Homo sapiens: one gene and its partner. The protein of the gene in region 1 purifies or fractionates together with the protein of each later gene. This does not show direct contact. Each region holds a gene or a part of one and is shown on either strand. Other genes may lie near its edges.

Region 1 (7,301 bases):
ATTTGAGAGAAGAAGCTCAAGAAAAGTGATGGAATCTCTTTTTTTTTTTTGAGATGGAATCTTGCTGTGTCACCCAGGCTGGAGTGCAGTGGTGCAATCGCGGCTCACTGCAAGCTCCGCCTCCTGGGTTCACGCCTTTCTCCTGCCTCGGCGTCCAGAGTAGCTGGGATGACAGGCACCCGCCACCACGCCTGGCTAATTTTTTTTGTATTTTTAGTACAGATGAGGTTTCACCATGTTAGCCAGGGTAGTCTCGATCTCCTGACCTCATGATCCACCCACCTCAGCCTCCCAAAGTGTTGGGACTACAGGCGTGAGCCACCGTGCCTAGCCAAGTGATGGAATCTCTTACAGCTTCTTCTCAGGCATTGGACATTTCAGGACTATTCACATTTAGCTGAAGTCACATGTCCAAGTTCAGTGTCAACTATTGAAGAGCTATGTTCTCCTTACAATTGAGGCACCCTTAAGACCCAGAGTCCATAGTGGTGATTTACAGTCCTCCTACAGAGAATAGAGGAGTTAATAAATAATTGTAAAAAAAAAAATTATCCTAGAAAGAAACAGACACGCAAGAACTTCATACTTCTGTTGGCAGCAAACATTTGTGAATTACATGCTGTGGAGGTGGAACAAAAAGGATGAGAAAATTTATAGAAATAATTTGATGCAACAAGAAATAGCAGCTTTGCAAATATTCCCAAGAGCAGAACAAGTAAAGTGGATTGAAAGAGTCTAAAAATTCTTGCTGTGGTTATTTGGAGTCAGCATTAGAGGGTCAGAGGCAGGCCCAGGTGCGGTGGCTCACGCTTATAATCCCAGCACTTTGGGAGGCCAAGGCAGGCGGATCACCTGAGATCAGGAGTTCGAGACCAGCCTGGCCAACATAGTGAAACCCCGTCTCTACTAAAAATACAAAAAATTAGCCGGGCGTGGTGGCACAAGCCTGTAATCCCAGCTATTTGGGAGGCGGAGGCAAGAGAATTGCTTGAACCTAGGAGGTGGAGGTTGCAGTGAACCGAGATTGTGCCACTGCACTCCAGCCTGGGCAACAGAGGAAAACTCAGTCTCAAAAAGAATAGGGTCAGAGGCTACATCCTTGAATATAACAAAGCATGGAATGGTGGATTCCCCACATTCTGACCCCTCCTTGAGTCCCTGGGATGAGGTCTCCCTTCAAGATCACAACTAGCTGTATTCCAGGAACAGGAACAGGGTAACACTAGACTCACATCCTCTCGCAAGAGACATTTCTGGTGTCACAGTGAGCTAAGTAAATGCAAAACTGAGACAATAACAATAGCTGCTATTGATCGAACAATTATTCTGTTCCAGTAACTTTCCAAGCATTAAAATATTGCTTACTTTTCACAATAACTTCATAGGATCGATGAAATTTCCAGAACTTATAGATAAGAAATGAAAGTTCTAAAAGTTTCATTTCCTATCATGAGGGATTTACTCAAGAGACACATGTAAACTTGTATATGCAGAAGCTAAATGTGAGTTTGTTTTCTGCTACTATAGCAGAATGCCTGAGACTGGGCAATTTATAATGAACAGAGATGTATTTGGCTAATGGTGAAGTGGCATCGTTTGTCTGGGGAAATACTCAAGGTTCATTGTCCTGCTCTAAGGAAAATGAAGACGCAGATGCACGAGGTGTGGATTTAATAGTGGAAAGTTTAATACATGAAAGAAACAAGAAAAAAGCTCCCTTATGTAGATGGAGGCGGGTTCCAAACAGATCTCCCTGTTGCCCATGGGATTCGGTTGGTTTTATAGAGGGGCTTGAGGAGGTGGGGTCTGATTTACATAGGGCCCAGGGGATTGGTTGGACCAAGTGTGTCATTTACATAGCCTGCAAAGAGGCTGGCCATCCCACCCCAATTGTTTATTATGCAGATGGGGTTTTTACCTGGCCAGTGCCATGACACCATCTTGTCTGCTCCTTACAGTGCACGTGGCTGGCAGAGAAGGGAAGATGGAGCCACCATCTTGAAAACGTCTAGTCCTTAGTTTCTGCCAGCATTCACCCATGCAAACTCCCAGCTTGCTTATCTATGTCTGCAGCTCAACTTTACAGGCTGCTCTTTGTTAGAAAATGATTTGAGGCTGCTTTTCATTAAAAGAGAAAAGCCTTACTGAGGACTCTCATGCCCTTGCTATCTGCCTAAGTAATTCCTTCTTAACTCCTATATCAGGAGGCACCTAGTGGGAGCTAACCGAATCGTGGGGGCAGTTTTCCCCATACTTTTCTCATGGTACTAAATAAGTCTCATGAGAGCTGATGGTTTTATAAGGGGTTTCCCTTTTCACTTGATTCTTATTCTCGCTTTGCCTGCTGCCATGTAAGACATGCCTTTTGCCTTCCACCATGATTGTGAGGCCTCCCCAGCCATGTGGAACTGTGAGTCCAGAGTCCATTAAACCTCTTTCCTTTATAAATTACCAAGTCTTGGGTATGTCTTTATCAGCAGCGTGAAAACGGACTAATACACATGTAGAATCTCTGGACCCCATCCTAGACCTGATAAATTAGAATCCACATTTGAACAAGATCCAGAAGCAATTCATATAAACTTTGAAGCTGGAGATGTTCTGGTCTAGAATAGTGTTTGCAGCTTCCTCCATGTTAACATTTGTGCTGGATTATCATTTGTGGTGGGGGTATCATTTGCATTGTTGGATCTTGAACAGCATTCTCAACCTCAACCCCCAGGTGCCAGTAACATCTTCCTAGTTGTGACAACTAAAGTTTTCTCAGATATTTTCAAGTGTCCTTTGGTGGCAAAATCATCCCTGCTTTTTGTTTCTTTGTTTTTGTTTTTTTGAGATGGAGTTTTGCTCTGTCACCCAGGCTTGAGTAATGTCAGCTCACTGCAACCTCTGCCTCCCGGGTTCAAGTGATTCTCCTGCCTCAGCCTCCTGAGTAGCTGGGACTACAGGCGTATGCCACCATGCCCAGGTAATTTTTACATTTTTAGTAGAGACGGGGTCTCACCGTGTTGGCCAGGCTGGTCTCGAACTCCGGCCTCAGGTTATCTGCCTGCCTTAGCCTCCCAAAGTGCTGGGATTACAAGTGTGAGCCACCACATGCAGCCTCATTCCTGTTTTTAAACTACTGGCCTCAAGCATGAGAACTGAAAACATCATGAAGGAGTTTCAACCATTCATCCCTTTCTTGGTTTATAATGTTGAGCAGATCACTGAATCTTTCTGAGCCCCATTACTGCATACGTAGAATGATGCTCATGACAGTACCGACCACATAAAATAAACATTTATAAACATTAGATAAAATAATCCTTATAAGGTGCCATTCTCAGGACAATGTGCATAAAAGGGTCTAAATATATCTCTTGTAATTGGTACACATTTTATCAATGAAGAACTAAAAGACAGTTCTTAATTTGTCTGACAAGCATTAAATTACAAATTGTTTTGGTGAAAACATCATGAAGCCAAGGAGTACAGCCAAGCCATGATTTATATCAAAGGAACACAGTACTCCCTCTAGTTGAAGAATGAGATGGAAATTTTCAGATGTTGGGCCAGGCACAGTGGCTCACGCCTGTAATCCCAGCACTTTGGGAGGCCAAGGCGGGTGGATGACCTGAGGTCAGGAGTTCGAGACCAGCCTGGCCAACATGACAAAACCCCTTCTCTACTAAAAATATAAAAATTAGCTGGGCATGGGGGTGAGCACCTGTAGTTCCAGCTACTCGGGAGGCTGAGGCAGAAGAATCACTTGAACCCAGGAGGCGGAGGTTGCAGTGAGCTGAGATCACACCACTGCACTCCAGCCTGGGTGACACAGTGAGACTCCGTCTCAAAAAAAAAAGAGAAATTTTCTTATGGTATCAGAGGCTGTATTCCCACAATAAGTCGATGCTTTGGAGATTTAAGGGGAGTAGGCAAGATGGGTTTCTCAGTCTTAGATGTGAAGAAAACTTTGTCTCAGGATTGGGACAGTTGTTACAAAGTTAGACTTCTGGAAGAAAGGAGAGTTCATGTTGAAAGAGTAAGAAAGACTGGTTCATCCAGTCTCTTGGGAACAGAGAATCTGCAGGATTTTTTTTCTTTCTGTGCAAAACAATGTCCCACAGGGACATAATGTACTCAGGGTTTCAAATAACAAGAAGAAATGTGCCTATTGAGCAGATGTGGGAAGCTATAAATATTTCATCTGCTGTTGTCCCTCAGGCACCCCTGGGTTGAATGGAATATCATTGTTTCTTTTGAAGTCCTAAGTCTAGCTCAGAGACAGATGCTTGACTCTTTCCTGCTGCCTAGTCTGCTGAGCAGAGCTTCAGTCTCCACCATCAATCATCCAGTGAGGAATTTGCACTTACACAAGGAACTCTTCCTCGGAGAGATCCCCTCCTGGTGAGTTGGAGAGCCCAGTGGGAACTGCAGGAAAACAATAGATGGAATAGATGCAGAGAATATTTACCTGAGATCACCTGAGAGCCAGTCCAGCCTAGCCCAGAGCCAAGATATTGCTGCGGTTATTTGCTTGGTTGATTAATTAACTAAGTAATGTCTCGTTTTATGATGCAAAAAAAGAAAAGTGAACACTGAACTAGGCAATGCAAGGGTGACGACTATTGACATTTAGTGAAGGTCACAGAAGCCCAATTAGAAGGAATAGGAGGTGTAAAATGATTTTTGTAAAAGTACAACATACATCTTTGTAATTAAGGGGAGTAGAGAAATCGTGTATTGGCTGTGGAGGGATATACAGTCATGTAAAGACATTTCCTTTTTACTTTTAAAATGGAGCATATTTCAGTTTGATTCTATGCCCGTGAGAAAAATCCAGATGAACGGATTGCTTGCAAATACCATTTTGCAACAGCAGTTCATAATGCGTATATTTTGCAGGATTTTCTCTTACGCTAGGTATTCAGATAATACAAAATATTTAATAGGTGAGAGACTATGTACTAATGAGCTGTACTTGCATTTATTTCCTCACTTGCGTGGCTGAATATATTTGTGTGTTGTTTAGGCCTGTGATTTGATGCTTCTAAACAACTCACAGTGTATAGGATAGACTTTATCAAAGAGAGTGATCTAGCCCAGAATATCAATAGTGCTGAGATTGAGAAACACTGTGGCGAGGAATATCTGCTGGCTTCCTGGTTTTTGGAGTTTTGTTGTTTGTTTGTTTTTTCTTTGAGACAGAGCCTCACTCTGTCGTGCAAGCCTCTGTCCATGCTACTACTGGAATGCAGTAGCATGATCTCAGCTCACTGCTGCCTCAACCTCCTTGGCTCCGGTGATCCTCCCACCTCAGTCTCCCAAGTAGCTGGAACTACTGGTGTGCACCACCATGCTAGGCTAATTTTTGTATTTCTTTTGTAGAGATGGAGTTTCACCACGTTGTCCAGGCTGGTCTCGAACTCCTGGGCTCAAGCAATTTACTTGCCTCAGCCTCCCAAAGTGCTAGGATTGCAGACGTGTGCCACCACGCCCAGCCTGTATGTGTTTTTAATATTTTATCTGTCTGGAGATTGTTTCCACAAGACATTATGACACTTATTTCTGTCACCAAAATTAGAGTACCCGTTTGCCATCTGTTTAAAAATTCCAACACAAATCTATGACAGCTGAGAAAGTTCCCCACTCCATCCCCGCTCAGGCTGATGGACGTGAGATTTCTTACTGTTTTCTTAAAATATTACTGACTTTGAGCAAATATTCATATATTTGATCAAGATCTTGATTGCCTTATGTTTACTATATGCCCATTTTTATACAGTTACCAGCGTTTAAAATTATTTTTTTCAATGATTCTTTTTCAGTTGACTTTTGGGGAAATTTATTAGCCATAAAAAGTTTAAAATATTCTTTAGTTAAATATATACCTATCATCTTACTTCTGCAATTATTGCCTTAGTTAAGGTGATTTGCCCACCCACAGATTTCATATGTAGTTTCCCTGTTTTCATGGAAAAGGCATTGTTTACTTTTTTTTTGAGACGGAGTCTCGCCCTGTCAACCAGGATGGAATGCAGTGGTGCGATCTTGGCTCACTGCAACCTTCGCTTCCTGGATCCAAGCGATTCTCCCACCTCAGCCTCCTGAGTAGCTTGGACTGCAGGCAAGTGCCACCATACCCATCTAATTTTTGTATTTTTGGTAGAGATGGCGTTTCGCCATATTGCCCAGGCTGGTCTTGAACTCCCGACCTCAAGTGATCCACCCACCTGGACCTTCCAAACTGCTGGGATTACAGGCATGAGCCACCGTACCTGGCCGATATTGAAGTTTTTAATTCCTCTGACTTTGTGTAAGATGTGTGAGGTAGGTGACCAATTTTATTTATTCCAGACAAATAGCTGTTTATGACAGCATTTATTTAAATATCCAATCCTTTCTAACTAAATTGAAATACAAGCTTGCTGTATATTAAATGCCCATGTATACTGAGAACAAAGTCCTGATTCATTCAGCAAATAATAACTGAGCATCTGCTCTGTGCAAGAGTTTTTTATGAACAGTGTATGCCATATTCTTTTATATCTAGATTTTTGCCAATTTATTAATTTATGTTGATATGATTAAATTATTATTATAGCATGTCAGTTAATTTTCAATACTTCAACAATTTTATTCACTACAGTTGATTATATTTAACCTGGTTTTATTCTCCTGCCATTCTTTCTAATTTTATAATTCTTTTTTTAATAATGCATACATCGTCACATCTTTTTATGAAAATATGAAGGTAGCCAGGCACTGTGGCTCAGGCCTGTAATCCCAACACTTTGGGAGGCCGAGGTGGGTGGATCACGGGGTCAGGAGATCGAGACCATCCTGGCCAACATGGTGAAACCCCGACTCTATTAAAAATACAAAAATTAGCCAGGTGTTGTGGCTCATGACTGTAATCCCAGCTACTTGGGAGGTTGAGGCAGGAGAATCGCTTGAACCCAGGAGGCGGAGGTTGCCAGTCAGCCGAGATCGCGCCACTGCACTCCAGCCTGGTGACAGAGCAAGGCTCCATTAAAAAAAAAAAAGAAAAGAAAAAAGAAAGAAAGAGAGAGAGAAGGAAGGAAGGGAGGGAGGGAGGGAAGGAGGGAAAAAAATACATAAGTGAACATCCATGGTAACATCCCTGCTCATTTTGACCTTGTGCTATAATGGTGAAAATACAGTAGAATTAAATAAAGGTGCATGATGCAATGTCATAAGGTGTAAATCAAATAAAGAATATTTCTTAGTGTAAAATAATAGAATTGTCAGGCCAAGCGAGGTGACTCATGCCTATAATTCCAGCACTTTGGGAGGCC
Region 2 (7,037 bases), about 11 Mb from region 1:
GATGGGGTTTCACCGTGTTAGATAGGATGATCTCGATCTCCTGACCTCGTGATCCACCCGCCTTGGCCTCCCAAAGTGCTGGGATTACAGGTGTGAGCCACCGCGCCCGGCCGAGAACAATCGTTTCTGTGTGTCTGTGTTATTGGTTTATGAGCCCCTACTTTTACCACCTTCTTCAATGAACAAACCAGAGTGGCTGAGGCCACCTTGGATGAGTCAGCTGTGGTGGAAAATGCTGGTCATCCACCAAAACTCCTTCCTCCTTTTTTTTTTTTTTTTTTTTGAGATAGAGTCTCACTCTGTTGCCCAGGCTGGAGGGCAATGGCACAATCTCAGCTCACTGCAACCTCTGCCTCCCAGGTTCAAGTGATTCTCCTGCCTCAGCCTCCCGAGTAACTGGGATTACAGGCAGGCACCGCCATGTCCAGCTAATTTTTGTATTTTTAGTAGAGACAGGGTTTCTCCATGTTGGCCAGGCTGGTCTCGAACTCCTGACCTCAGATGATCCGCCTGCCTCGGCCTCCCAAAGTGCTGGGATTACAGCACTTTGAGCCACGGTGCCCGGCCTCCCTTCGTTCTAGTTGGCAGCACAGCCAGGCACGGACCAGCTGGAGGATGCATCTCACAGTTTCCTTCGCCACCAGATGGGGCCTTGTGACTATGCTGTGGCCTCTGGCATGAGAGAAGAACTGAGGTGGGCCGCATCTGAGGCTGCGTGGTCCTCCACACACTTTTTGCCTTCCCACAGCCGGACCCTGAAGGTGCTCTGAGCCAGCTGTGGCCACAGCGCAGGAAGCCGTGCTCCAGAAGGAAGGAGGCTGAGTCCCTGAATGGTTCCAAGGAGCAGAGCTGCCCGAAGTCCTAGACTGTCAGCCCAGGGCTGTTATGACTGAGAAATAAATTTCTATGTTCTTTCTTTACATTCTCTTCTTTCGGCAGCTTAAACAGGGGTTGGCGAATTACAGACCCATAGGCCTGCCACCAGTTTTAGTAAATTAAGTTTTTTTTTTTTTTTTTTTGAGACAGAGTCTCATTCTGTCACCCAGGCTGGGGTGCAGTGGCACGATCTCGGCTCGCTGCAACCTCCGCCTCCCGGGTTCAAGCGATTCTCCTGCCTCAGCCTTCTGAGTAGCTGGGATTACAAGCGTGAGCCACTGCACTCAGCCTTAATTTTTATTTGTTTATTTTAGACAGGGTCTCACTCTTGCTCAGGCTGGAGTTCGGTCATACTGATGCAGCTCACTGCAGCCTTGACCTTCTGGGCTCAAGCGGTCCTCCTGCCTCAGTCTCTCAAACAGCTGGGACCACAGACATGCACCACCACCCATGACTAATTTTTGTAATTTTGTAAAGAAGGGGTCTCACTTTGTTGCCCAGGCTGGTCTCAAACTCCCGGCCTCAAGCGATCCTCCTGCCTTGGCCTCCCAAAATGCTGGGATTACAGGCATGAGCCACTGCACCCCGCCTATAAATAAAGATTTATTGGCACCAGGCAACACCCACTTATTTACACCTGATCATGGGTGTTTTGGGCTACAGCCACAGGGTGGAGGAGTTAGGGTGCAGACTGGCCTTTTAAGAAAAAGTCAAGTTCTGGTCGGGCATGGTGGCTCACGCCTGTAATCCCAGCACTTTGGGAGGCCTAGGCGGGCGGATCACGAGGTGAAGAGATTGAGACCATCCTTCCCAACATGGTGAAACCCCATCTCTACTAAAAATACAAAAAATTAGCTGGGCTTGGTGGCGCGTGCCTGTAGTCCCAGCTACTCGGGAGGCTGAGGCAGGAGAATCGCTTGAACCTGGGAGGCAGAGGTTGCAGTGAGCCAAGATCGTGCCACTGCACTCCAGCCTAGGCGACAGAGCGAGACTCCGTCTCAAAAAACAAAAACAAAAAACAAAAGAAAAAGTCAAGCTGACCCCTGGCTTCAGTTGTCCCTAGTTCACCTGGGAGCCCCCAGGACTCAGGCACCCCACTTACCTCATCCAGGATGGCGGTGGGGTTGGGCCGAAGGGCTGGCTGCAGGGGCGAGGGAGCAGCCTCATCCTCTGAGTCGGAGTCCTCCAGCAGTCTTCGCTTTCTGGCTTCCTCCAACAGGGCCCTGTGGGATGGAAGATGGGAACTTGGACGTGCTCTGTTTGGGGAACAGTGCCTGGGATGTACCTGCTGGGGTGGCGAGGGGCCTGGGTGCCTGGAGACCTCTTCCTGCCCTCAGTGAGCAGGGGTGGGAGGGAGTAGGGGGAGCACAGATTACTTTTTTTTTTTAAGAGACAAGGTCTCACTCTGTCACTCAGGGAGGGTGAAGTGGCACAATCACAGCTCACTGCAACCTCAACCTCCTGGGCTCAAGCGATCCTCCCCACTCAGCTTCCTGAGTAGCTGGGTCCACAGGCGTGTTCCTATGCCTTATTAAATTTTATTTCATTTTATTTTTGAGACAGAGTCTCGCTCTGTTGCCCAGGCTGGAGTGCAGTGGCGCAATCTTGGCTCACTGCAACCCCCACCTCCCAGGTTGAAGCGATTCTCCTGCCTCAGCTTCCCAAGTACCTGGGATTACAGGTGCCTGCCACCACACCCGGCTAATTTTTGTATTTTTTTTTTCTTTTTTGAGATGGAGTCTTTGTTGTCCAGGCTGGAGTGCAGTGGCGTGATCTTGGCTCACTGCAACCTCCGCCTCCTGGGTTCAAGCGATTCTCCAGCCTCAGCCTACCGAGCAGCTAGGACTACAGGCACGCACCACCGTGTCCAGCTAATTTTTGTATTTTTAGTAGAGGCGGGGTTTCGCCATCTTGGCCAGGCCGGTCTCTAATTCTGGGAGTGGTTTATGTGAGAACCACAGTGTGAGAACTCTAATCAGGGGATATAGCTTCAAAGAAAATGTCTTTTAGAAAAATGTCTTGGGGCCAGACATGGTGGCTGATGTCTGTAATCCCTGTGCCTTTAGAGGCCAAGGCAGGAGAAATGCTTAAGGCCAGGAGCATGAGACCAGCCTGGGCAACACAGCAAGACCGCATCTCTGCAAAAAGGATTTTAAAAATCAGGGGCCTACATCCCCTTACCTGGGATGACCCCTTTGCCAAGCACTCGCTTGGTGAACTCCTACTCGACCTTCAATACCCAATGCAAGACGCTCTTCCTCTGAGAAGCTCATCCTCATAATTCAAGCTCACGCATCCTGGCTTCTCTCTCACCCAGATGGATGTTGTCCTGGGTATTGGTCTCCTTGTCCCTCTCCCTCCCCACACAGTGAGCTCCGTGAGGGCAGAGCACCCATTGGGACTTCCTTAACCCAGTGGTTACCACTTCCTCTATTTAAACATAAAACAGATTAAAGGGGCCAGATGCAGTGGCTCATGCCTGTCATCCCAGCTCTTTGGGACGCTGAGACGGGAGGATCGCTTGAGCCAGGGGTTAGAGACCAGCCTGGGCAACATAGCGAGACCCCGTCTCTAAAAAAATTAAAAATGTTAGCTAGGACTACAGGCACATACCACCATGTCCAGCTAATTTCTGTAGTTTTAGTAGAGACGGGGTTTCACCATCTTGGCCAGGCTGGTCTCGAACTCCTGACCTCAGGTGATACGCCCACTTCAGCCTCCCAAAGTGCTGGGATTACGGGCGTGAGCCACCGACCGCACCTAGTCTACTTTTTAATTTTCATTTTTTTTAGGAGGAATCTTGCTCTGTCGCCCAGGCTGGAGTTCAGTGGCACCATCTCGGCTCACTATAACCTCTGCCTCCCGGGTTCAGGCAATTCTCCTGTCTCAGCCTCTGGAGCAGCTGGAATTACAGGCATCTGCCACCACGCCCAGCTAATTTGTTTTTGTATTTTTAGTACAGATGGGGTTTCGCCATGTTGGCCAGGCTGGTCTCGAACTGCTGACCTCAGGTGATCCGCCCGCCTCAGCCTCCCACAGTGCAGGATGGCAGGCAGGAGACCCTGCGCCCGGCCCCTTCTACTTTTTTACATTAACTTTTCCGTGTCCACCGAGGGCAGTGGTGTGGTTAAGTGCCTGGATGCCGGAACCAGCCTGTCTGGATGGAGCCTGGAGGGTAACCTTGGTGGGGCTCATGCCTGGACCTCCCTGGACCTCAGTCCCCTCCATGATGAAGATCACACTGACCCCCAGGGCTGTGTGGGTAGTGAGGTTACAGCCACGCCCGGCACCCGGAAGGTGCAGGATGAACGCAGGCTCCCAACACTGTTCTGCACGGTATCGCTGCTCTGCACACCCATCAGGCACTGACGTGGAACCTACCAGAACCTACCTGCTGGAAGCCCTGGGGACACAGGAGAGGCCACCACGTCCCTGTCCTTACAGCTCAGATTCTAAAGGAGGGAGGGGAGATGAGGCACCAGGAAAGGAGGGGATCAGCACGCGGGCTCAGAGGTGGTCGGCGTCAAAGGCATTCACCAGCCAACCACAGGGGCTCACACGTGTCATCCAGCACTTCAGGAGACTAAGGTGGGAGGATCGCTTGAGGCCAGGAGTTCAAAACCAGCCTGTCCAACATAGCGAGGTCCTGTCTCTACAGAAATAAAAACAATTAGCTGGGCATGGTGATGTGTCCCTGTGGTCCCAGCTACCCAGAAGGCTGAGGCAGGAGGAACGCTTGAGCCCGGGAGATGGAGGCTACAGTGAGCTATGACTGCACTACTGCACTCCAGCCTGGGCGGCAGAGCAAAACCCCGTCTCAAAGAAAAAGAAAAGCGTCGTCCGGGCGCGGTGGCTCACGCCTGCAATCCCAGCACTTTGGGAGGCCGAGGCGGGCGGATCACGAGGTCAGGAGATCGAGACCATCCTGGCTAACACGGTGAAACCCCATCTCTACTAAAAATTACAAAAAATTAGCCGGGCTTGGTGGCGGATGCCTCTAATCCCAGCTACTCGGGAGGCTGAGGCAGAATGGCATGAACCCGGGAGGCGGAGCTTGCAGTGAGCGAGATGGCGCCACTGCCCTCCAGCCTGGGCAGCAGAGGGAGACTCCGTCTCAAAAAAAAAAAAAAAAAAAAAAAAAAAAAGAAAAGTGTTCACCCAGGAGGCCTGAGGCTGTGTCCTCAGAAGGCGGCTGGTGAGGGCGTCCCTTGGTGGGTGTCCGGGAGCCTGTGCTGGGGGCCTCCCACCCTCATGGATGGGACGGGCTCTGGGGCTTCAGCTGTTCCTGCAAACACCATGGTTTATGCGTGACCCCTGCTTTCCTCTGGAGTCTGGAATCCCGGCATGGGTGAGGCAGCGGGGGCTGTGGGACCAGGCCCCATAGGAACCCCACGCTGGGTCTCTAGGAGCTTCCCTAGTGATGGCGCCTTTCTCGAGTCCTCCAGGCTGGTGCTAGGGGATGAGGCGCGTCCTGCGAAGCTCCACCAGGAGAGGATCTGGAAGGCCTGGCCCCCGACACACCACACATGCCTTTCCCCTTTGCTGAATCTGCTGTGTCCTCTCGCTGTGACAAACCGCAGCCATGCGGGCGACCACGTGCTAAGTCACCGTGCCCGGCAGTGGCCTGGGACCCCCTCGAGAGACGCCACAAGGGAGAAAGTGAGATGGGCGGTGGGAAAGGGGTCCTTGCAAAGGCGACACTCCAGAGAGCGGGGAAAGGGTCTGGGGCAGAGGCAGCGCCTGCCGGGGCAGAGGCTGCGAGGTGGGGCTGGGTTGGGCCGGCCCTGACTCACGCGGTCTCCTGCTCGTCCTCCTCCTGCTGCTGCCTCCGCCGCTCCTCCTCCGACAGGCGGTGCTGCCTCAGCATAGCCTCGAAGTCCACGTGCGCCTGCCGCTGGTTCAGGTCTTTCAGCTCCTGGAGGTTCTCCAGCACCTCCATCTCCAGCTTGGAGTCCTTGGTCCGGTTCTCCAGCACCTGGCGGGCGCGGGGCGGCGGGGCTGAGTGCATGGGGATCGCACCACGGGGCAAACCCTGTCTGGCCTCGGGGGCCACTGCGGGCCACGGGAGGAACCCCTACCCCCACGTTTCCATCCTGCTCAGGGAACCCCCTGCCCATGCCCAGCGCTGTGTCCATTTCACAGGTGAGAACACTCAGGTCTGGGGAGGGAAAGTGACCACATGGGGCTGAGCAGTGGTGGAGCCGGGATCTGAGCCCTGGGGCAGGGTGGGGTGGAAAGAGGCTGGCTCTGGACCCAGGTGGCCTGGATTTCTGGCCTGGTGCCATCTTTCAGTAAGAATAATAAGGAAAAATTTGGCCAGGCACAGTGGCTCACGTCTGTAATCCCAGCATTTTGGGAGGCCGGAGCGGGCGGATCACCTGAGATCAGGAGTTCGAGACCAGCCTGGCCAACATGGTGAAACCCTGTCTCTACTAAAAATACAGGCTGGGTGTTATGGGTCACGCCTGTAATCCCAGCACTTTGGGAGGCCGAGGCAGACAGATCACTTGAGGTCAGGAGTTCAAGACCAGCCTGGCCAACATGACGAAACCCCATCTCTACTAAAAATACAAAAAGTAGCTGGGCGTAGTGGCATGTGCCTGTAATCCCAGCTACTTGGGAGGCTGAGGCAGGAGAATTGCTTGAACCCGGGAGGCAGAGGTTGCAGTGAACCAAGATTGCACCACTGGACTCCAACCTGGGTGACAGAGTGAGACTCCATCTCAAAAAAATAAATAAATAATAAAAATACAAAAATTATCCAGGCGTGGTGGCACACACCTGTAATCCCAGCTACTTGGGAGGCTGAGGCAGGAGAATCACTTGAACCCAGGAGGCAGAGGTTGACTGAGCTCAGATCGTGCCAATGCATTCCAGCTTGGGTGACAGAGCGAGACTCTATCTCAAAAATAATAATATTAAGGAAAAATTGTAAAAGACAACCTGAGCACCTACTGTACACCGGGCCCTGGGCTAAGAGGTTTCCATATGCCATCTCATTTAATCCTCACAACCCCCATTTTACAGAAACGGAAACTGAGGCTGAGGGAGGCGAGTCTGGTGGCCACGGGTCCCTGAGAAGTGGCTTTGGAGCCAGGCAGGTTGGGAGTGAATCCTGCCTGGCTGCTTCCCAGTGCTGTGACCTTGTTGTATTTACCCTT

Evidence for each region. The genes of interacting proteins can lie anywhere in the genome.
Region 2: the proteins of OR7C1 (region 1) and YJU2 purify together in Homo sapiens (affinity purification with mass spectrometry; 3 studies listed by BioGRID and IntAct, with this or other methods). This does not show direct contact.

Annotation. Positions count from the first base shown.
Region 1 is NC_000019.10:14,832,162-14,839,462, reverse strand, and holds the start of OR7C1 (olfactory receptor 7C1), read left to right. Parts: upstream 1-4,277; 5' UTR 4,278-4,389; intron 4,390-5,370; exon of another isoform or gene 5,371-5,486; intron 5,487-6,151; exon of another isoform or gene 6,152-6,312; intron 6,313-7,301. UniProt on the Homo sapiens protein: Odorant receptor.
Region 2 is NC_000019.10:4,257,056-4,264,092, reverse strand, and holds part of YJU2 (splicing factor YJU2), read right to left. Parts: intron 5,852-7,037; coding exon 5,670-5,851; intron 2,100-5,669; coding exon 1,979-2,099; intron 1-1,978.